2 separate regions of the Homo sapiens genome follow, and region 1 is linked to region 2. The links come from fine-mapping of genetic effects on gene expression. A gene starts in region 2. The other region holds a variant in brackets. All regions are shown on one strand. Distances are from middle to middle. Region 1 overlaps ABCA7 (ATP binding cassette subfamily A member 7). Region 2 holds the start of CNN2 (calponin 2).

Region 1 (10,953 bases), 22 kb before region 2:
GCACCCACCTGAAGAAGGACACCTGAGCACCGTACATGGTGGGACTGAGCCGCAGAGCCGGGTAGTGCCCGAAAGGAGGCACGATGAGGCTGAACACGAGGGCCAGGCCCACAAAGAGGGCAGGCAGCACGATCTGGGGGACCAGCCCATCAGCTGCTGCTTCCATCCACCCTCCAGGCTTGCTTGCACCTGTCCCTGCTCCTGCTCTACAACCACCCATGGCTCCCCAGTGCCCTCAATAAATGTGCTTTGGGTTGGGAATACACACGGGGGTAAGGGTTTGGATTAGGCCACTGAGTGGACGGCCAGGGTAGGGAACTCAGGGACTCCCATGCGACTCCCTGGTGCTAGCCCTCCTCACCTGGGCGAACAGGCCGCGGCGGCTGCGGCGGGCAAGCAGAAAGCGCTTGAGAAGCAGGGCCTGGAGCTGCTGGCGGGTCAGTGCCCAGCCCTGTACCCGGCCCACGGCGTCTGGCCCAGAGCCCTGGTCAGTCTCTGGGGCTGACCCAGCTGTGAGGGATGAGAGGGTCAGTGCTCACGCTGCTGTGGGGGGGTGGCTGGGAGGACCCCAGGGCCACTGGGAAGGACTTACCTGGTTCCCCGTTCTCCAGCGCTGTCTCCTGTGGCGGCATCTTGAGCCGTAGGGTTACGTCTAGGCCAGCAATGCCTGTGCATAGGTGCTGCCCGCAGCTGCCATCTGCAGGGCCATCAGGGGTCAGGGTCAAAGTTGAGGGTCACGGATTGGGGGATCAGGAATCAGGTATAGGGTAAAGGCTATGCCTTGGGCCACACTAAGCCAGGGATGGGGACCTGGCCTCTGGTCCCACTCTGGACTGGGGTCAGGGGTCAGGGAGCTGTGGCCGCACCCTCCATATCTGTGTCCGCAGCACACTCCTCCACCACCTTCAGGAAGATCTGGGGAGACAAGCAGGGGCTCAGAGACTGGACACCGACAGGGAGAACTGGGGGCTTGTGAGCCCCCCACCCCTCCTACACCATGGGTCCCCCAGGCCTTCCCAAGGGACATCTGAGCCACCAGAGCTCCTCATGTGCCATGCCTCCTCCCTGAATGTCCTTGCTGCTCATAAACACGCTATTCATCCTTCAAAACACCACCTCCTCCAGGAAGCCCTCCTCCTGGCCCCACCTCACCACCACCCAGGCCTCACACCTCCTCGAGGCTGGTGTCGGAGATCCCGTAGCCAGTGAGCCTCAGCTCCGCCAGCCGCGTGTCTAGCTCTCGGAAGAGTGTGGCGAAGCTGCCGTCATGGGCACCCGTGTAGGGCAGCACCAGCACCAGCTCGTGTGGCAGCTCCTCCACCAGCCGTGCCCCGGGCACCCAGTGCTGTACCAGGGCCAGCAGCTGAGGAGTGCCTGTGTGGACAAAGGGGTGCTTCAGGGAGCCCCGGCTCACGCCCCACCCCAGTCTCCCTGGGGAAGAGGCATTGGTGACCTGTGAGGGGACTGTCCCGGCAGACAGAGATCAGGGTTAAGAACGTAGGCCAGGTGCGGCCGGGCGCAGTGGCTCACGCCTGTAATCCCAGCACTTTGAGGGTTGAAGCAGGCAGATCACCTGAGGTCAGGAGTTTGAGACCAGCCTGACCAACATGGTGAAACCCCATTTCTACCAAAAATGCAAAAATTAGCCAGGCATGGTGGAACCCACCTGTAATCCCAGTTACTCGAGAGGCTGAGGGAGGAGAAATGCTTGAACCCAGGAGGCAGAGGTTGCAGTGAGCTGAGATCACACCACTGCACTACAGCCTGGGCGACAGAGCAAGACTCAGAAACAAACAAAAAGAGATCTTGAGGGCAGTGCTGGACCTAGTGTTGGAGGTCAGGGGTAGGTTTGTCTCTGGGCTCAGCCCTGGTTGGGTTAAAGGTGGGGTCAGTGTTCAAGTTAGTCTCATGGTTCCGGCTCAGCCCAGGGATGGGGGCATCATCTCAGGTTCTCAAGTGCTCTCCTCCTCCTCTCCTTCTCCTCCCCCTCCTCTCCCTCCTCCTCCTCTCCCTCCTACTCCTCCCCCTTCTCCTCCCCCTCCTCTTCCTCCTACTTCTCCCCCTTCTCCTCCCCCTTTCCCTCCCCCTCCTCCTCCCCCTCCTATTCCTCCCCTTCTGCTCCCCTCCTACTCCTCCCCTTCTTCTCCCCCTCCTCCTCTCCCTTCCCCTCCTCCTCCCCCCTTCTCCTCCCCCTCCTCCTCTCCCTCCCCCTCCTCCTCTCCCTCCTACTCCTCCCCTTCGCCTCCCCTTCCACCTCTTACTCCTCCCCCTCCTCCTCCCCCTCCTCCTCCGCCTCAACCTCCTCTGCCGCTTCCTCCCCCTCCTCCTCCTCTTCCCCCTCCCCCTCCTCCTCCTCAAGTTAAGGCACAGCCACCCCACTGCCCACCCGCCTTGGGTCTCCCACCCCGGCCCTCACCGACTCTGCTGCCCTGGCTGCCATTCTTCTTTTCCTGCCTGGTGTCCACACTGCCCTCCATGTCAGTGTCAGCCTGCGGGCAGAGAGGCACCAAGTGGCTTGGCCTTCAGGGCTGAACAGAGTCCCGGGGGTCAGGGGTCAGGAGAAGGCCGGTCCCCACCTTCTCATTGGTGGTCAGGGGCAGGCGGGCCTTCACCAGCGTCAGGTAGTAGCCGGAGCCCAGGTGACGGCGCAGGAAGAGTGGGGAGCCACAGCAGCACAAGCGGCCACCTGCCACCACGGCCACACGGTCTCCCAGCAGCTCTGCCTCATCCAGGTGGTGGGTGGAGAGGATCAGCGTGCGACCTAGGCACGGGGGACCAACCCACAACTACCATCAGGCCGCCGCGTCTTTGCCCGAGCTGGGGCCTCTGCCAGGAGTTGTCTGCCCCATGAAGCAAACTCCTATTCATCCCTCAAAACCTCATCCCCAGAACCTCCTTGTTGGAAACCTTTTCTGGCCCTTCAGGCAGAATCCAGGGGAACCTCTGTCTATCCCCAACTCTTACTGTCTCGGTATTTGAGCAGTAGCCCCTAAATGCCATAGCAACAAGTGGGGTCCACATGTAGCAAACTCCTACTCATTCCTCAAAACCCCATCCCCAGCACTTCCTTGTCAGAAGCCTTTTCTGGCCCCTCGAGCAGAATCCCCAGCTCTTACCTTCTCGGTATTTGAGCAGCAGCTCCCAAATACCGCGGCGGGAAGCAGGATCCACGCCAGCCGTAGGCTCGTCCAGGATAACAACTTGGGAGCCGCCCACAAAGGCAATGGCCACGGACAGCTTCCGTTGCATCCCACCTGGTAGAGATGGGGAAGGGACCTCAGTGTGTCACACCCAGCCTTGGGCAAGGTTGCCTACCCACGTGGACCTCAGTACCCGGCTTCCCCCTGCCTTCAGGATGAATCCCCAGGCCCCTCCCTGTGAGGTGACCTCCCTTGGGGATGGGCTCACCAGAGAGGTGGCGAGTCTGCACACTCTGCTTGGAGACCAGCCCCACATCCTGCAGCAGACGGTCCTGCTCGGGGCCCACTACAGCGGCACTCAGACCCTTCAGCCGCCCATAGAACCAGACGTGCTCGTCCACGGTCAGCCTGCGGCCAGTGCACAGAGCAGAGTGACCCACATGGCAGGCAGAGTCCCAGAGGGCGTCCAGTCCCTTCCCACCGCTGCACTCTGGGCCTGCCGAGACGCACATGTCAAACAGCACGTTGTACTGAGGACAGACGCCCAGGTGGGGCCGGATGGCGGCCATGCTGGAGCGGACGTCGTGGCCCAGGATGAAGGCAGAGCCACCACTGGGTGGGAAGAGGCCACTCAAGATGGACCTGTGGATAGAGGGGTCTCAGAGTAGCCCCCTTCACAGAGTGCACTGGCAGTTACAGAGCTTCTATTTTTAATTTCTGTTTTTAAAAAATTTTTAATTATTTATTATTATTATTATTATTATTATTATTATTATTATTTTTGAGACGGAGTTTCACTCTGTTGCCCAGGCTGGAGTGCAGCGGCACGATCTCGGCTCACTGCAAGCTCCACCTCCCGGGTTCACGCCATTCTCCTGCCTCAGCCTCCCGAGTAGCTGGGACTACAGGCGCCCGCCACCATGTCCGGCTAATTTTTTTGCATTTTTAGTAGAGACGGGGTTTCACTGTTTCACCATGTTAGCCAGGATGATCTCAATCTCCTGACCTCGTGATCCACCCGCCTCGGCCCCCCAAAGTGCTGGGATTGCAGGCCTGAGCCACCACGCCTGGCCACAGAGCACCTATTAAATGCTACATCCAAAACCCTGTGATAGCCTTATTTTTATTTATTTGTTTATTTTTATTTTTTTGTGACAGAGTCTCACTCTGTTGCCCAGGCTGGAGTGCAACGGCACAGTCTCGGCTCACTGCAACCTCCGCCTCCAGGGTTCAAGCAGTTCTCCTGCCTCAGCCTCCTGAGTAGCTGGGATTACAGGTGCACGCCACCATCACACCCGGCTAATTTTTGTATTTTTAGTAGAGATGGTTTTGCCATATTGGCCAGGCTGTGTCTCAAACTCTGACCTCAGGCAATCCTCCCACCTCGGCTTGCCCAAGTGCTGGGATTACAGGCGTGAGCCACCACTCCCGCCCTATTTATTTTGAGACAGGGTCTTACTCCGTTGCCCAAGCTGGAGTGCAGTGGCGCCATTACTGCTCACAGGGAGGGACTGGTCGGGGGCCTCACAGGGAGCTCACAGGGAGGAAGTGGTGGGGGGCTCACAGGGAGGGAGTGGTTTGGGCGGCTCACAGGGAGGGAGTGGTGGGGGACTCACAGGGAGGGAGTGGTGGGGGAACTCACAGGGAGGGAGTGGTGGGGGGGCTCACAGGGAGGGAGTGGTGGGGGGGCTCACGGGGAGGGAGCGGTCGGGGGGCTCACAGGGAGGGAGTGGTGGGGGGGCTCACGGGGAGGGAGTGGTGGGGGGTTCACGGGGAGGGAGTGGTGGGGGGGCTCACGGGGAGGGAGTGGTGGGGGGTTCACGGGGAGGGAGTGGTGGGGGGCCTCACGGGGAGGGAGTGGTGGGGGGGCTCACGGGGAGGGAGTGGTGGGGGGTTCACGGGGAGGGAGTGGTGGGGGGGCTCACGGGGAGGGAGTGGTGGGGGGTTCACGGGGAGGGAGTGGTGGGGGGCTCACGGGGAGGGAGTGGTGGGGGGGCTCACGGGGAGGGAGTGGTGGGGGGTTCACGGGGAGGGAGTGGTGGGGGGCTCACGGGGAGGGAGTGGTGGGGGGGCTCACGGGGTGGGAGTGGGGGGGCTCACGGGGAGGGAGTGGTTGGGGGCTCACAGGGTGGTGGTCTTGCCGGCCCCGTTGTGGCCCAGGAAGGCGGTGATGTGGCCCTGGTAGAAGTCCAGGCTGAGCCCCCGCAGGGCTGGCTGCGGGCTTCCAGGAAAGCGCTTCTCCAGGCTGCGAACGGA[G/T]ACGCCAGGACTCAGGCCGGGCGGTGCCTCTTCTACCAGCACTGCAGAGATGGGGTGGACTCAGCCATGGAGGTCATGGGGGTCCTGGGGCCTGCAAGTCCCTCAGAGCTGGGCTGTGGAATCCGGGACCTGCTGGGCCGGGGCCTATAAAAGCTGCGGGAGCTTGGGGACCGCAGTGTCTTCAGGGCAGGTGTGAGGGTTGGGGTGTCCAGGTCATTGTCATTGGCATCTGTGGAATCTCGTTTTGGGGGGGAACTGGGCATATGTGGACAACCAGCTATTAAGCCTCGTAGTGCCTCACCCTTTGGGTCCAGCGGGGTGGGGCAAGGGGCTGGACTCTTGGGGGGCCGAGGTCCGCACCAGTAGCTCCTCCGAAAAGGAAAATTCCATGGTTCAGGGATCCCGTACTGGCCTGCGGGGAGGGGCGCGGGTTATTGCTTAGCCCACCCCCCAGGAGTGTACCAGGCTTTTTTTGGGGTTTTGTTTTTTTTTTTTTTTGAGACGGAGTCTTGCTCTGTTGCCCAGGCTGGAGTGCAGTGGCACGATTTTGACTCGCTGCAAGCTCCGCCTCCCCAGTTCACGTCATTCTCCTGCCTCAGCCTCCTGAGTAGCTGGGACTACAGGCGCCCGCCACCATGCCTGGATAATTTTTTGTATTTTTGGGAGAGACGGGGTTTCACCGTGTTAGCCAGGATGGTCTCCATCTCCTGACCTCGTGATCTGCCCACCTCGGCCTCCCAAAGTGCTGGGAAAGCAGGCGTGAGCCACCGTGCCCGGCCTTGTTTTTTTTTTTTTTGTTTTTTTTTTTTTGAGACTGAGTTTCACTCTTGTTGCCCAGGCTGGAGTGCAGTGGCGCGATCTCGACTCACCGCAACCTCCGCCTCCGGGATTCAAGCATTTCTCCTGCCTCTGCCTTCCAAGTAGCTAGGAAACAGGCACCCGCCACCACACCCAGCTAATTTTGTATTTTTAGTAGAGACGGGGTTTCTCCATGTTGGTCAGGCTGGTCTCGAAATCCCGACCTCAGATGACCCGCCCGCCTCGGCCTCCCAAAGTGCTGGGATTACAGGCGTGAGCCACCGCACCCAGCCAGCTTTTTTTTTTTTTTTTTTTTTAAAGAGATGGAGGTCTCACTCTGTTGCCCAGGCTGGTGGGATCACGGCTCACAGCAGCCTCAACCTCCTGGGCTCGAGTGATCCTCCCACCCCATCCTCCCGAGTAGCTGGGACTACAGGAGCGTGCCACCACGCCCAGCGTGCCACCACGCCCAGCTAACTTTTTGTATTGATGAGGTCTCACTATATTGCCCAGCCTGGTCTCAAACTCCTGGGCTCAAGCGATTCTCCTGCCTTGGCCTCCCAAAGTGCTGGGATTACAAGCGTGAGCCACAGCGCCCGGCGACTGTGCCAGCTTCTGGCCATACACCTGGAATCAGGGCGTCCAGGTATGAGGCGGCCCAGAAACCCCGCCCACCTGCCTCAGGCCCCGCCCCTCCAATGCAGCCACCTGCATGCGTGTGCCAAGAAGCCCCGCCTTCTCTCCAAGGGAATAAGCCACCCCCCACCCCCAAACGGCCTGGAGGCCACACCCCTAGCTCAGCCTCCCGCAAAGCAGGTGCGACCCGGCCCGGAGCCCCGCCCCCTACGGCCCACCTGGGCACACAGCTTCCAGGTACCAGGTGGCGAGGCCGTAGAGCGCCGCGTCCAGCAGCAGAAGGCCAGAGACCTGGGCCAGGCTGAAGACGTCTGCCGTAGGCCGGGTGCCCACGTTGTGCCACTGCGCGCCCTCGCCCTGCTCCTCCAGCAGAGCCAGGCTCTCGCAGCCGAAGCCGAAGGCCACGGGCGACAGCAGGCTCTGCGGAAAAGCGGGCGGTCAGTGAGCGGCCGAAGCGGGGGGCGTCCCCCATCCACGCCCGACCCGGCTCTCACCGCGGCCACGCGGCCACCCGCGGGCAGCCGGTCCCGCCAAGCCACACACAGCACGTAGGGCAGGTAGAGGGAGAAGTAGGCCAGGCCGCCGCAGGCCGCAGCCAGGTTGGCGCGGGAGAAGAAGGCGCTGAGCAGGAAGCTCTGGGTCACCGTGGCCACCGCGAAGGCTGCCAAGAACAGGAAGACCACGCCCGGGTGGCTGTAGGGGAGGATGTCTCCCAGCTGTGAGAGGCAACGGGAGCTTAGGGTGCAGCTCCTGGATTGGCCTGGGGGCGCGCACCCACGTGGGGCCGCCCCTGTCTGTCACCCTCCAGCGCACCCATTCTGCAGCCGGGCAGGCCGAGGCGCGCCCACCTTGAGCACCAGAACCAGCAGTGCGGCGCTGAGCAGGAAGGGCCCGAGGCAGCTGAGGAACCAGCCTAGCCAGAGCACCGCGCGGCTGAGCCCCATGGCGCGCATGGTGTCCCGCAGCCGCGTCTCCTTCTCCCGCACCACGGCCTTCACTGTCAGTGTCACGGAGTAGATCCAGGCCAGCGTCAGGAAGAGCGGCAGCGACCGGCTCAGCACACGCAGGAACCTGGGGTGGGGACGGCTGGGGTGGAGGCTGGAGACCCTCCGCAGACCCCCCCTCCGCCCACCATCTGGCACGACTGGTTCGTGTCCCGGGATCTCAAGGCGGGAAGATTTGCCTCCCTGTTCCTTGGAACCTGATCCAGCCAGCCTTTGGCTCTCAGGCATCAGTGCAGCCCAGGCTGTCCCTGCGCCGGGGGCCCCCAGACCCTCAGAGTCCCCCCCCCCACCAGACCCTCAGAGTCCCCTGCTCCTCCCGCTGCAGCAGGTCACGTGGAGTGGTGTAAAGGTGCAAAGTTCGCAGCCTGGACCGCAGGAAGGTTCCCAACAGAGCCTGGGCCCACCCCCACACCCGGGACCTTCCCGCCGCGGGGAAGAGCGGGGAGGGGTGCCAGAGCTCACACGTCGTCCACATAGCACGGATAGGGCATCTGCTGCAGGTAGAGGCCGGCCCGGGGGTTGGCGCCGCTGAGCACGCGGACGGCTGCACGCTCCACCAGGTCTTGCAGGTACACGAAGCCGCCCCACACGTAGCGCAGGTCGGTCAGGGGGTCCGCGGCTGGGCCAGGGTCCCAAAACCTGCGAGAGGGGCATGGTGGCCGGTTGTAGGGAAGGGCTAGAAACTCCCGGGGCCCCACCCTGAATAACCTTTTTCTTAGACAGGGTCTTGCTCTGTCGCCCAGGCTGGAGTGAAGAGCTGCAATCATAGCTCACTGCAGCCTTGACCTCCCGGGATCAAACGATCCCCCCAGCTCGGCCTCCCAAGTCGCCTGGCTAATTTTATTCATTTATTCATTTGTTTGAGACGGAGTCTCGCTCTATCGCCCAGGCTGGAGTGCAGTGGCGCCATCTCGGCTCACTGCAACCTCCGCCTCCTGGGTTCAAGCGATTCTCCTGCCTCAGCCTCCTGGGTAGCTGGGCCTACAGGCGCGTGCTACCACGCCCGGCTAATTTTTTGTACTTTTTTTTTTTAGTAGAGGCAGGGTTTCACCGAGTTAGTCAGGATGGTCTTGATCTCCTGACCTCGTGATCCGCCCGCCTCAGCCTCCCAAAGTGCTGGGATTACAGGCGTGAGCCACTGTGCCCGGCCTCACCTGGCTAATTTTTAAAGATATTTTCGTGAGGTTGGTGGGGGAGGGGGGCGGGGGGGAGGCGGTCTCACTATGTTGCCCAGGCTAGTCTCGAATACCTGTCCTCAAGAGATTCTCCCACTTTGGCCTCCCAAAGTTCTGAGATAACAGGCAAGATCTACTGCGCTCAGCACCCGGTGCAATTTTAGCTCCACCCTTATTCCAGGGACCTAATAATACACCTGGCTCCGCCCACCATTGCCCTCAACCTATACCTGCTCTCATCTTATCTCAGGCCCATGGCCACGCCCCTCATGCACCTAGGCCCCGCCCATCACGGGCCCCTATTGGTCTAAGGAGCCCCGGGCTCTGGCTACCATACCACTGTTGATACAGCCCAGATCCTGTCTATCATGGTCTCCAATAGGCTGAATGCTGCCTGGCCCCACCCACCACGCTCTTGGCCCCGCCCAGTCCCTCATCCCCCCGCCCCCTCCCTCGCCTGACCTGTCCCTGATCTTATTGGTCCTCGTGACCACGTCAATGTCCATGCGGATTTTGATGCGCACGTGGCCGGGGCCCAGGTCTGGGGTTGGGTGCTCTGTGGGGTCTGAAGAGTCCTCAGGTCCCAAGAAGACGACGCCGGCCCAGAATCGATGTTCCGCGAGCAGTTGCAGGGCCCGCGACACCAGGGCTGCCTCTGAGGGTGCCGCCTCCAGCTTGTCCAAGGACAGGCACTGTGGGATGCGGGGGTGAGTCCTAGGCGCTGGGGTCCGCCTGCCTCCTAGACCACTCCGCTCCTCCCCCTGGACCTCGGGGCTGGGCCATGTTTTCCCCTCGTAGGCCCACGGCCGGCTCCCTCCTGAGATCTCTACAAATCCCAGGCTCTTACTAGGGCCGGGCCCGCCTCCCCCTGGGAACACCAGGGTGGGAACACTAGGATGGGACCTGCCCTCCCCACTGAAACAGACCCCGCAGGTGGACAGGCCCTCACCTCCGTCACTCGGCCCAGCGTGCCCACCAGGTGCCCCACATCAGCGTGTGCGTCCTGCCAGCTGTAGCCACCGCTCCCAGGGTCCAGAAAGGATCGCAGGGCCTCCATGTGGTCCCGGCCTCCAGGTCTGGGCTGCCTTCTTCCTTCATCCTGCATCTGCAGGAGCCGCTGGGGGGCGCAGGTGAAAGTGAGAGTCTGGGTCGGGCACAGTGGCTCATGCCTGTAATCCCAGCACTTTGGGAGGCGAGGCGGGTGGATCACCTGAGGTCAGGAGTTCGAGACCAGCCTGGCCAACATGGTGAAAGCCCATCTCTACTAAAAATACAAAAAGTAGCCGGGAGTGGTGGCGCATGCCTGTAATCCCAGTTACTTGTGAGGCTGAAGCAGGAGAATTGCTTGAATCCAGGAGGCGGAGGTTGCAGTGAGCCAAGATCTCGCCACTGCAGTCCAGCCTGGGCAACAGAGTGAGACTCCATCTCTTAAAAAAAAAAAAAAAAAAAAAAAAAGCAGGACGTGGTAGTTCACGCCTGTAATCCCAGCACTTTGGGAGGCCGAGGCGGGTGGATCACGAGGTCAGGAGATCGAGACCATCCTGGCTAACATGGTTAAACCCCGTCTCTACTAAAAATAAAAAAAAAAAATCATCCGGGCGTGGTGGTGGGCGCCTGTAGTCCCAGCTACTCAGAGGGTGAGACAGGAGAATCGCTTGAACCCGGGAGGTGGAGGTTGCAGTGAGTCGAGATCACGCCACTGCATTCCAGCTTGGGCGACAGAGCGAGACTCCATCTCAAAAAAAAAAAAAAAAAAGTGGGGGTCTGCACGGAGCCCACCTTCCCATCCACCGGGCCTGTCTACCCTCCTCACCGGGGAGCCACATCCCACCTCCCCAGCACCCCCGCACACCTGCAGCATGGCCACATTGGAACTGTCGTTCATGAAGGTGAAGATCCGGGGTCCCAGCATCTCCCACACCTCCCGGACATCCCTCAGCAGGG
Region 2 (8,814 bases):
CTGCACTCCAGCTTGGGCAACAGAGTGAGACTCCACCTCAAAAAAAAAAAATTATTTATTTAGCCACCACGCCCAGCTAACTTTTTTTTTTTTTTTTTTTTTTTTTTGAGATGGAGTCTCGCTGTGTCACCCCGGCTGGAGTGCAATGGTGTGATCTCGGCTCACTGCAACCTCCGCCTCCCGGGTTCAAGCAATTCTCCTTCCTCAGCCTCCTGAGTAGCTGGGATTACAGGTGCCTGGCTAATTTTTTTGTATTATTAGTACAGACGGGGTTTCACCATGTTGGCCAGGCTGGTCTCGAACTCCTGACCTCGAGATCCACCGCCCCCCGCCACCACCCTCGGCCTCCAAAAGTGCTGGGATTACAGGCATGAGCCAGGCCATGCCCGGCCCCCCAAAAATTTCTTAATTAAGAAAAAAAGTGAGAAAAACCAAGATTTGTTAAGTGTGAGACAGCCTGTGTCCCTGCGTGTACTCACGTGCATAAGATAGTTCCATCCTTCAGGCCCTTCTGGAAGTCGGGGCCGATGGAGAGGCCGGTGAGTCCCTCGATCCAGGTGCGGAGCTCTGCCTCCTTCTGGGGGTCATATTTGGACAGGAGCTGGTGGAGCAAAGGGCACGAGACTGAGCTGGGCTGGGGGCACCCCCAGCAGGAACCCCACAGAAGCTCTGCAGAGGGTGGGGCCGGGGACTCCAGGGCAACAGCAGATAGAGCGGCCTGGAGGTCCCCCCTCACCACACCCACGCAGATGCTCCCTTTTCCCATCATTGGGGGCGCCCCAGCCACTGCAGGCGGGCACAGATAAACCGCCCTCCAAGCAGGCCGACAACCGGCTTAGAACTCACTGATAAACATCAGCTCTAATCCACTCCCGGTGCAGGACAAACCTGGCCGGATCTGCCTCCCCGCCCTGCCTTCTCACCTCCCCGCTATATCACACCTGACGTTTACCACTTCAACCACCTGAAACCGCACCATTTCACAGCATTTCGTACGTCTGCAATGTTGTGCAACCATCAGCTCTTTTTTCTTTTTTATTTTTTTTGAGACAGAGTCTCACTCTGTCGCCCAGGCTGGAGTGCAGTGGTGCGATCTCGGCTCACTGCAAGCTCCGCCTCCCCGGTTCAGGCCATTCTCCTGCCTCAGCCTCCCGAGTAGCTGGGACTGCAGGCGCCCGCCACCAGGCCCAGCTCATTTTTTGTATTTTTAATAGAGACGGGGTTTCACCGTGTTAGCCAAGATGGTCTCCATCTCCTGACCTCGTGATCTGCCCGTCTCAGCCCTCCAAAGTGCTGGGATTACAGGTGTGAGCCACCGCGCCCGGCCCCCATCCTGCTTCTTAGCAACTCCCGAAGGAGCTGCCCCCGAGGCTGACCGCCTCTAGTCACGCACCTGGCTCCTTGCCACCGATTCCCTGCCACCTTTCTGCACCCGGCCATTCCAGCTTTCTTGGCCTTCGGTGCTCTGAGACACCGCCGTGGGGAATGGGCTGTGTGCTCCTGGGCAGTGGGTGTGCACCAGTGGGGACCTCGAGTGTCCCTATCCAGCCACTAGTGACCGCGGAGACAGCACTGAGGCAGACGGCAAAGTGTATAGGGGGCCATAAGCATGGGGGCAGGTCGTGTAGCGGGAGCGGGAGATAAACGCTGGAGGGAGAATAAAGTAGGGTTTGGGCTGGGTGCGGTGGCTCACACCTACAATCCCAGCACTTTGGGAGGCCAAGGCGGGCGGATCATCTGAGGTCAGGAGTTCGAGACTGGCCTAGCCCACATGGTGAAATCCCGTCTGTACTAAAATACAAAAATGAGCTGGGCGTGGTGGTGGGCACCTGTAGTCCCAGCTACTTGGGAGGCTGAGGCAGGAGAATCGCTTGAACCCAGGAGGCAGAGGAGGCAGTGAGCCAAGATCGGGCCACTTCACTCCAGCCTGGAACAGAGTGAGCCTCTGTCTTAAAAAAAAAAAGAAAGAAAAGAGAGAAGGAAAAAAAAAATCAAATCCCTCTCCCTGCTCTGCACCCATCTCCCCAGGTTCCCGCGGACAGCTCCCCACTCAGCCTCCGCTTCCTCATCTCTTCCTGGGATTATTTGGGTTAGGGTCCCCTGACCTGGACCTGCCTGGGATGATTTGGGTTAGGGTCCCCTGAGCTGGACCTGCCTGGGATGATTTGGGTTAGGGTCCCCTGAGCTGGACCTGCCTAGGATGATTTGGGTTAGGGTCCCCTGAGCTGGACCTGCCTGGGATGATTTGGGTTAGGGTCCCCTGAGCTGGACCTGCCTGGGATGATTTGGGTTAGGGTCCCCTGAGCTAGACCTGCCTGGGATGATTTGGGTAGGGTCCCCTGACCTGGACCTGCCTGGGATGATTTGGGTTAGGGTCCCCTGAGCTGGACCTGCCTGGGATGATTTGGGTTAGGGTCCCCTGAGCTGGACCTGCCTGGGATGATTTGGGTTAGGGTCCCCTGAGCTAGATCTGCCTGGAATGATTTGGGTAGGGTCCCCTGAGCTGGACCTGCCTGGGATGATTTGGGTTAGGGTCCCCTGAGCTGGACCTGCCTGGGATGATTTGGGTTAGGGTCCCCTGAGCTGGACCTGCCTGGGATGATTTGGGTTAGGGTCCCCTGAGCTGGACCTGCCTGGGATTATTTGGGATAGGGTCCCCTGACCTGGACCTGCCTGGGATTATTTGGGTTAGGGTCCCCTGACCTGGCACCTGCCTGGAAACAGCTCGTAGCCCAGAGGAGGCAAAGGCGGGGAGGCCCCCCAGTACCAGCTCACAGCCCACCCAGCTTGGCTTTCCACGCCCGGGGGCAGCCCCGCCCCGCCGGCAACTTTGATCCCGAGGAATGAGAACGGTGGCTGCTGGGTACACAGCCCTGCCTTGCCCAGCTGCGCCGCGTCTCTGCCGGCTCAGGGGCCCAGGTCCCCTGGCCCCACCCCCAGCCGCTGCCGTCCTCCCCCACCCCCGCCCCCCCGCTGCCCGGCCGCCGGCCTTCCAGCACATTCCTGTTCACCACAAACTGCCAGGAATGCGCGCTGCCTCCCCGGCTAAATCTGAACCAGCTGTTCCCAGCGGGTCCGGACCCCCAAGCCGGGATGCAAGGCCGCAGACACTGTGGATCCGAGCTGCCTCCGTGCCGTCCAGCCGGGAGTCAACTGAGCCACGGGGAAGCGGGGCGGGGGGCGGGTCTCTGGCTGTTTCAAGCAGCCGGTAAAGCGGGTGTGAGCGGGAAGCCAGGGGGAAGCTGGTTTCTAATTGGGAGGCGACCCTTCCGTGACCCTGGCAAGCTGGCCGACGCCTCGCCCACCCTCCAAACGGACAGACTGAGGGTTGCGCGGGGAGCCTGCTAAGCGGCTCTTCCAGCCTCTGTCCTCACCCCCGCCAGGGCAGGTATCAACCTGCCCCCACCCCACCCCACCCCGTCTCCGGAAGCCGCCCCACCCTCCTGTGCCCGCTCCCACTTCCGCAGGCCCAGCAGGTACTGGGTTCCGGTCTTGGCCCTGTCACTTGTGGGCTGTGTGGCCCTGGGCAGCTGGAACGACGTCTCTGGGTCCCTGTGGACACCGGTGCCCTTAGCCGGCTGTATGCAGGGTGCGGCAGGGTGCCCACCCCACTGCACGGGGGGCTCTATGAATGCAGGGTGCAGATGGCCCCTTGAAGGAGGAGTCGTGAGCCCCGGGCTGGGGACCCTGGCTCAGGCCTTGACCACCCCAAGCCTCAGCCTCCCTTTTTGGCCAAGAGCTGGTCTGAAGGCTTGCAGGGGCTCACAGCGGGGAAGCAGGAATTCTCCCTCCAGTCTGCCGGCCCTGGAGTGCCGCCGGGCAGGTGGCTGTTGGGGCTGGCAGGGCCGGTGCCCTCAGAGCGTGCAGAGGCAGTTTCCCCTGCAGAAGTCAGCTGTAAGGACACCTTCCCAGGTGCCCAGTGGGCGTCGGGGGAGGGGGTGGGCGGGGACGACACCCCCCTCCAGCTGGAAGGTCCTGGAGGGTCAGGTCCCGGTCCTGTCCGTGGGTCTCGCATCACAACCCCCGCCCCCCACTTTCCCTGGGAATCCTGTCCAGGACCCTGCTGTGTGACCCTGCAGAAGTGTCTGGTCCTCTCTGAGCTAGAACCACAAGTGCTCTCTTAAAAAGTGTCTCCCCTAGCCCTGGCTTGTTTTTAATTATAGAGATGGGGTTTCGCCATGTTGCCCAGACTGGTCTCGAACTCGCTGGGCTCAAGCCATCCACCCAGCTCCGCCCCCCAAAGTGCTGGGATTACGGGCGTGAGCCCCCGCGCCCTGCCGGGCCCCAGCTCTTCTTTCGAGGCTGCAAAACCCCACATATCTCAGGGCCACCTTCAGAGAACCTCTTTGTTATCCGTTTAAATTAGTCAGATGGGAGACAAAGACCGTGCAAAGCGGCTACCGCCCCTCCCCCCAAGACACCCCCAAGGTGTCCCAGAGGCCAGGAAATTCCTGTTTGTGGGGGGGTAACACTTCTCAAAAACCACTCGGCCATGCCCCTTCCCCTCCCAAAGCTAAGAGGCCCCAAAAGCAGAAGTGTGGCCAGGAGATGACGGGGTTGCTGGGGTCCCCCCCAGACCCCCAGAGCGTTGTCGGACCTTGAACGGACCTTCTCGAAGGTTGAGTGGGCGCCAGGGGCTTCACACGTGGGGGTCCTGGGGCCATGGCGAGGGGACGAAGTCAGACCCAACTACCCCTAGATGTTGGGGGGGGGAATGGGTCACTCGTCCCCCAGATCTCAGACCTGGGTGCTCCCCAAGATTCGCGGGAGCCTCAGGGGGTGCCCGCAGACATCCCCCCACCAGGCGTCAGGGAGAACAAGGGCCCGTCCGCCCCGGGTCTCCAAGCTCCCTGCCCGGGAGGTGCCGGGGGCGCCTGGGGGCTCCTGCACCGGTCGGAGCGTGCGACGGCCGCGCTGTCGGGGGGACAAGGGGCGCCCCTCACTCACCCGGTTCTTGACCTCGGCCGACAGCCCGTACGAGGGGCCCTTGTTGAACTGCGTGGAGCTCATGGCTGGCGGGCGGGCGGCGGGACGGGGCCGCACAGGACGGGACGGGACGGGACCGCCGGGCTGGCGCGGGGTTGGGACGCGCCGGGCTCCGCGCGCCACGCCCCCGCCGCTGATTGGCCCGGAGCGCAAATGTCCTTATAAGGCCTGGAGGCGCCGAATTCCTGCGGCCGCGGACTTCCTGAGCCCCCTCGGTCGCCCCCGGACCCCCGCCTGGGCACAGCACCCCCGTCACCAGAGGCCTGGAGGGGCCCCTCGCCCCCTTTGATGCCACGGGAAACTGAGGCAGGGAGGGGCCGAGGCCGCCGGGACGTGGCACTCCTGCGGGCTCTCTGCTCAGAGCTCGTGGGCGGCTCTCACTCTTTCTCCATCTCAGACTTCTCTTCTGCCAGAAAGGGGAGGGGAGAAGGCTACCTTTGGGGCAGGAATGAGGGCCCCTCTCTGCCACTTAGAGGCGTCTAACCCCTTCCCAGGGAACTCTACTAGCTGGGAGGTGGACCAGGGAACCAGGGCAGGTTCCTCAGAGAAGGGGCCATTGGAGCTGGGGCTTTGTTGGATGAGTAGGAGTTTGTCAGTCCAAAAGAGAATAGGATTCTTACTGGGTGCGGTAGCTTGCACCTGGAGTTCTAGCTACTTGGGAGGCTGAGGCCGAAGGGGGAGGATCCGTTGAGCCCAAGAGGTCGAAGCTGCAGTGAGTTATCATCACAACATGACGCTCCAGCCTGGGCAGCAGAGCAAGAGCCTCTCTCTAAAAATAAATAAATAAATAAAAATAAAAATCCGAGTGGCTCACGCCTGCAATCCCAGCACTTTGGAAGGCCGAGGCGGGCGGATCACTTGAGGTCAGGAGTTCCAGACCAGCTTGGCTAACATGGCGAAACTCCGTCTCTACTAAAAATACAAAAATTAGCCGGGCATGGGGGCACATGCCTGTAATTCCAGCTACTGAGGAGGCTGAGGTGGGAGGATCACTTGAAGCCAGGAGGCGGAGGTTGTAGTAAGTCGAGATCGCGCCACTGCACTCCAGCCTGGGCGACAGAGCAAGACTCCGTCTTAAAAAAAAAAACAAAAAAAAAAAACACAAAAAAACCCTAATAATAATAAATTATTAAAAAGTCTCCGGGACAGTCTCCTGCCAGGCAGTGCTGGCTCTCAGGAGACCTTAGCTCTGGCCCAGCCCATGCCCAGGAAGACAGAGCTGGCACAGACCAACCCCCAACCCGGATTCCCTGTATGAGCCAGCACAGGCGGAACCCCCCCACCCCGCCCACCCTGTTTCCCTATATGAGCAAGTACAGGACAGAATGAGAGGCTTGGGGCTGGAGGAACTGGAGGGAGAGTTGGGGCTCTGTCGGAGGAATCAAGGAAAGCTGCATGTAAGAGGAGGCAAGGGAGATGGGGTTTTGAAGCATCAATAGGAGTTTGACACATTTTATTTTATTTTATTTTATTTTATTTTATTTTATTTTATTTTATTTTATTTTTAGTAGAGATGGGGTTTCACCATGTTGGCCAGGCTGGTCTCGAACCCCTGACCTCAGGTGATCCACCCGCCTCAGCCTCCCAAAGTACTGTGATTACAGGCTTGAACCACTGCACCTGGCCGACCCATGTCATTTTAGACCAGTGCTGACCATTTCTGTTATTCTGAGATGAAGGAAATTTTCAATGTGGCACTATCTACTACTGTAGCCACTGGCCATGGGGCTACTGAGCACTGGAAGTGTGGCTGGTGCCATCAGGGAAGCAAATACTTCATGTTCTTTTTATTTTATTTTATTATTATTTTTTGAGACGGAGTCTCGCTCTGTCACCCAGGCTGGAGTGCAGTGGCGCAATCTTGGCTCACTGCAAGCTCCACCTCCTGGGTTCACGCCATTCTCCTGCCTCAGCCTCCCCAGCAGCTGGGACTACAGGCACACCTCCACACCCAGCTAATTTTTGTATTTTTAGTAGAGACGGGGTTTCACTGTGTTATCCAGGATGGTCTCGATCTCCTGACCTCGTGATCTGCCCGCCTCAGCCTCCCAAAGTGCTGGGATTACAGGTGTGAGCCACCGCACCCAGCAAATACTTCCTATTCTTAAATTTCAATTAAAAATTAAAAACTGGCACTAGATTCCATTTTTTGAAGACACATATATATAAATACACATATATATGTAGCTGGGACTCCGAGTAGCTGGGACCGTAGACACGCACCACCACGCCTGGCTAATTTTTGCATTTTTAGTAGAGATGCGGGTTTCACCATGTTGGCCAGGCTGGTCTTGAACTCCTGACCTCAAGTGATCCGCCGGCCTCAGCCTTCCGAAGTGCTGGGATTATAGGTGTCAGCTGCCGTGGCCGGGCTATTTCAATTAATTTCAGTTAAAAATTAAAAACTGACATGATTTCCGTTTTTGACTATATATATATGTACACACACATTAAAGTTTTCAAATACATAAATACACACATATGTACACATTATACATATAAATGTAAATATATAGATATTTGAAACAGGGTCTTGCTCTGTCACCCAGGCTGGAGTGCAGTGGTGCAAATATAGTTCACTGCAGCCTCGACCTCCTGGACTCAAGTAATCTCCTGCCTCAGCCTCCTGAGTATCTGGGACTACAGGCATGTGCCATATGCCTAGCTAATTTTTAAATTTTTTGTAGAGATGGGGTCTCCCTATGTTGCCCAGTCTGGATTCAAGTGATCCTCCCGCCTCAGCCTCCCAAAGTGCTGGGATTGCAGGCGTGAGCCACCGTGCTCAGCCTCGTGTATATTTTAAATACCTTAGCGTTTCTGAATTTTCCTTTTCAGTATAAACGCTGTAAATCTAAATACTGTGGAGATAAGTATTTCTGAGGAAGCACTGGTATCCATATTGGAACACCCCATGGATGGGAAACACACCAGATTCTGAAGACTTGGTACATCTCAGTTACTTTTTTTTTTTTTTTTTTTTTGAGAAGTAGTCTCGCTCTGTCACCCAGGCTGGGGTGCAGTGGCGTGATCTCGGCTCACTGCAAGCTCCGCCTCCCGGGTTCAGGCCATTCTTCTGCCTCAGCCTCCCGAGCAGCTGGGACTACAGGCGCCCGCCACCACACCCAGCTAATATTTTTGTATTTTTAGTAGAGACAGGGTTTCACCGTGTTTGCCAGGGTGGTCTCGATCTCCTGACCTCGTGATCCGCCCGCCTCGGCCTCCCAAGTGCTGGGATTACAGGTGTCAGCCACCGCGCCCGGCCACTTTTTTTTCGTTTATGAGGTGGGGTCTTGCTCTGTTGCCCAGGCTGGAGTGCAATGGTGCCATCACAGCTCACTGCAGCCTCCAACTCCTTGGCTTAAGCAATCCTCTTGCCTCAGCCTCCCAAGTAGCTGGGACCACAGGCACACACCACCGTGCCCAGCTAATTTTTGGTATTTTTCGTAGAGACAGGATCTCATTATATTGCCCAGGCTGGTCTTGAACACCTGGGCTGAAATGATCCTCCCGCCTCAGCCTCCAAAAGTGCTGAGATTACAGGCATGAGCCACCGCGCCTGACCTTGTTTGGATAACTTGAGATGTGTAAAATATATTATTAAAATTAATTTCACTTGCTCTTTTTTAGTTGTTTTACTGTGGCTACCAGAACACTTAAAGTTATGTTTGTTATTTGCTTATCTTTCTCTTGGAAAGCTGTGTTCTTGACCTGTGGGCCAAATCCAGCTGCAGCCTATTTTTGTATGGCTTGTGAGCTAAGAATGGCTCTTACATTTTTAAGTGGTTGAAAAAAAAACCCAAAATATGAAAACCATTCTATCAAACGTGG

What was found. PIP is the estimated chance that this variant, and not a neighbour inherited with it, causes the effect.
Region 1: its variant is the best candidate, but not a certain one, in a credible set for the expression of CNN2 in whole blood (INTERVAL, PIP 0.87).

Annotation. Positions count from the first base shown.
Region 1 is chr19:1,043,750-1,054,702 of GRCh38, reverse strand. It overlaps ABCA7 (ATP binding cassette subfamily A member 7), which reads right to left. Exons shown (of 47, transcript NM_019112.4): 10 at 10,862-10,953; 11 at 9,959-10,126; 12 at 9,472-9,701; 13 at 8,297-8,473; 14 at 7,679-7,901; 15 at 7,325-7,546; 16 at 7,049-7,250; 17 at 5,698-5,808; 18 at 5,266-5,437; 19 at 3,651-3,782; 20 at 3,409-3,548; 21 at 3,117-3,254; 22 at 2,577-2,761; 23 at 2,417-2,489; 5 more. Among named protein-coding and RNA genes, the nearest start is that of ABCA7, 9.1 kb to the right of the region's middle. RefSeq lists silencers at 2,966-3,166, 3,423-3,587, 9,188-9,237, 9,328-9,477. The variant G/T (reference allele first, on the strand shown) is at 5,397.
Region 2 is chr19:1,022,858-1,031,671 of GRCh38, reverse strand. It overlaps CNN2 (calponin 2), which reads right to left and starts at 5,064. Exons shown (of 7, transcript NM_004368.4): 1 at 4,948-5,064; 2 at 480-601. The coding sequence starts at 5,010. RefSeq lists silencers at 3,112-3,287, 4,777-5,416 and an enhancer at 5,407-6,138.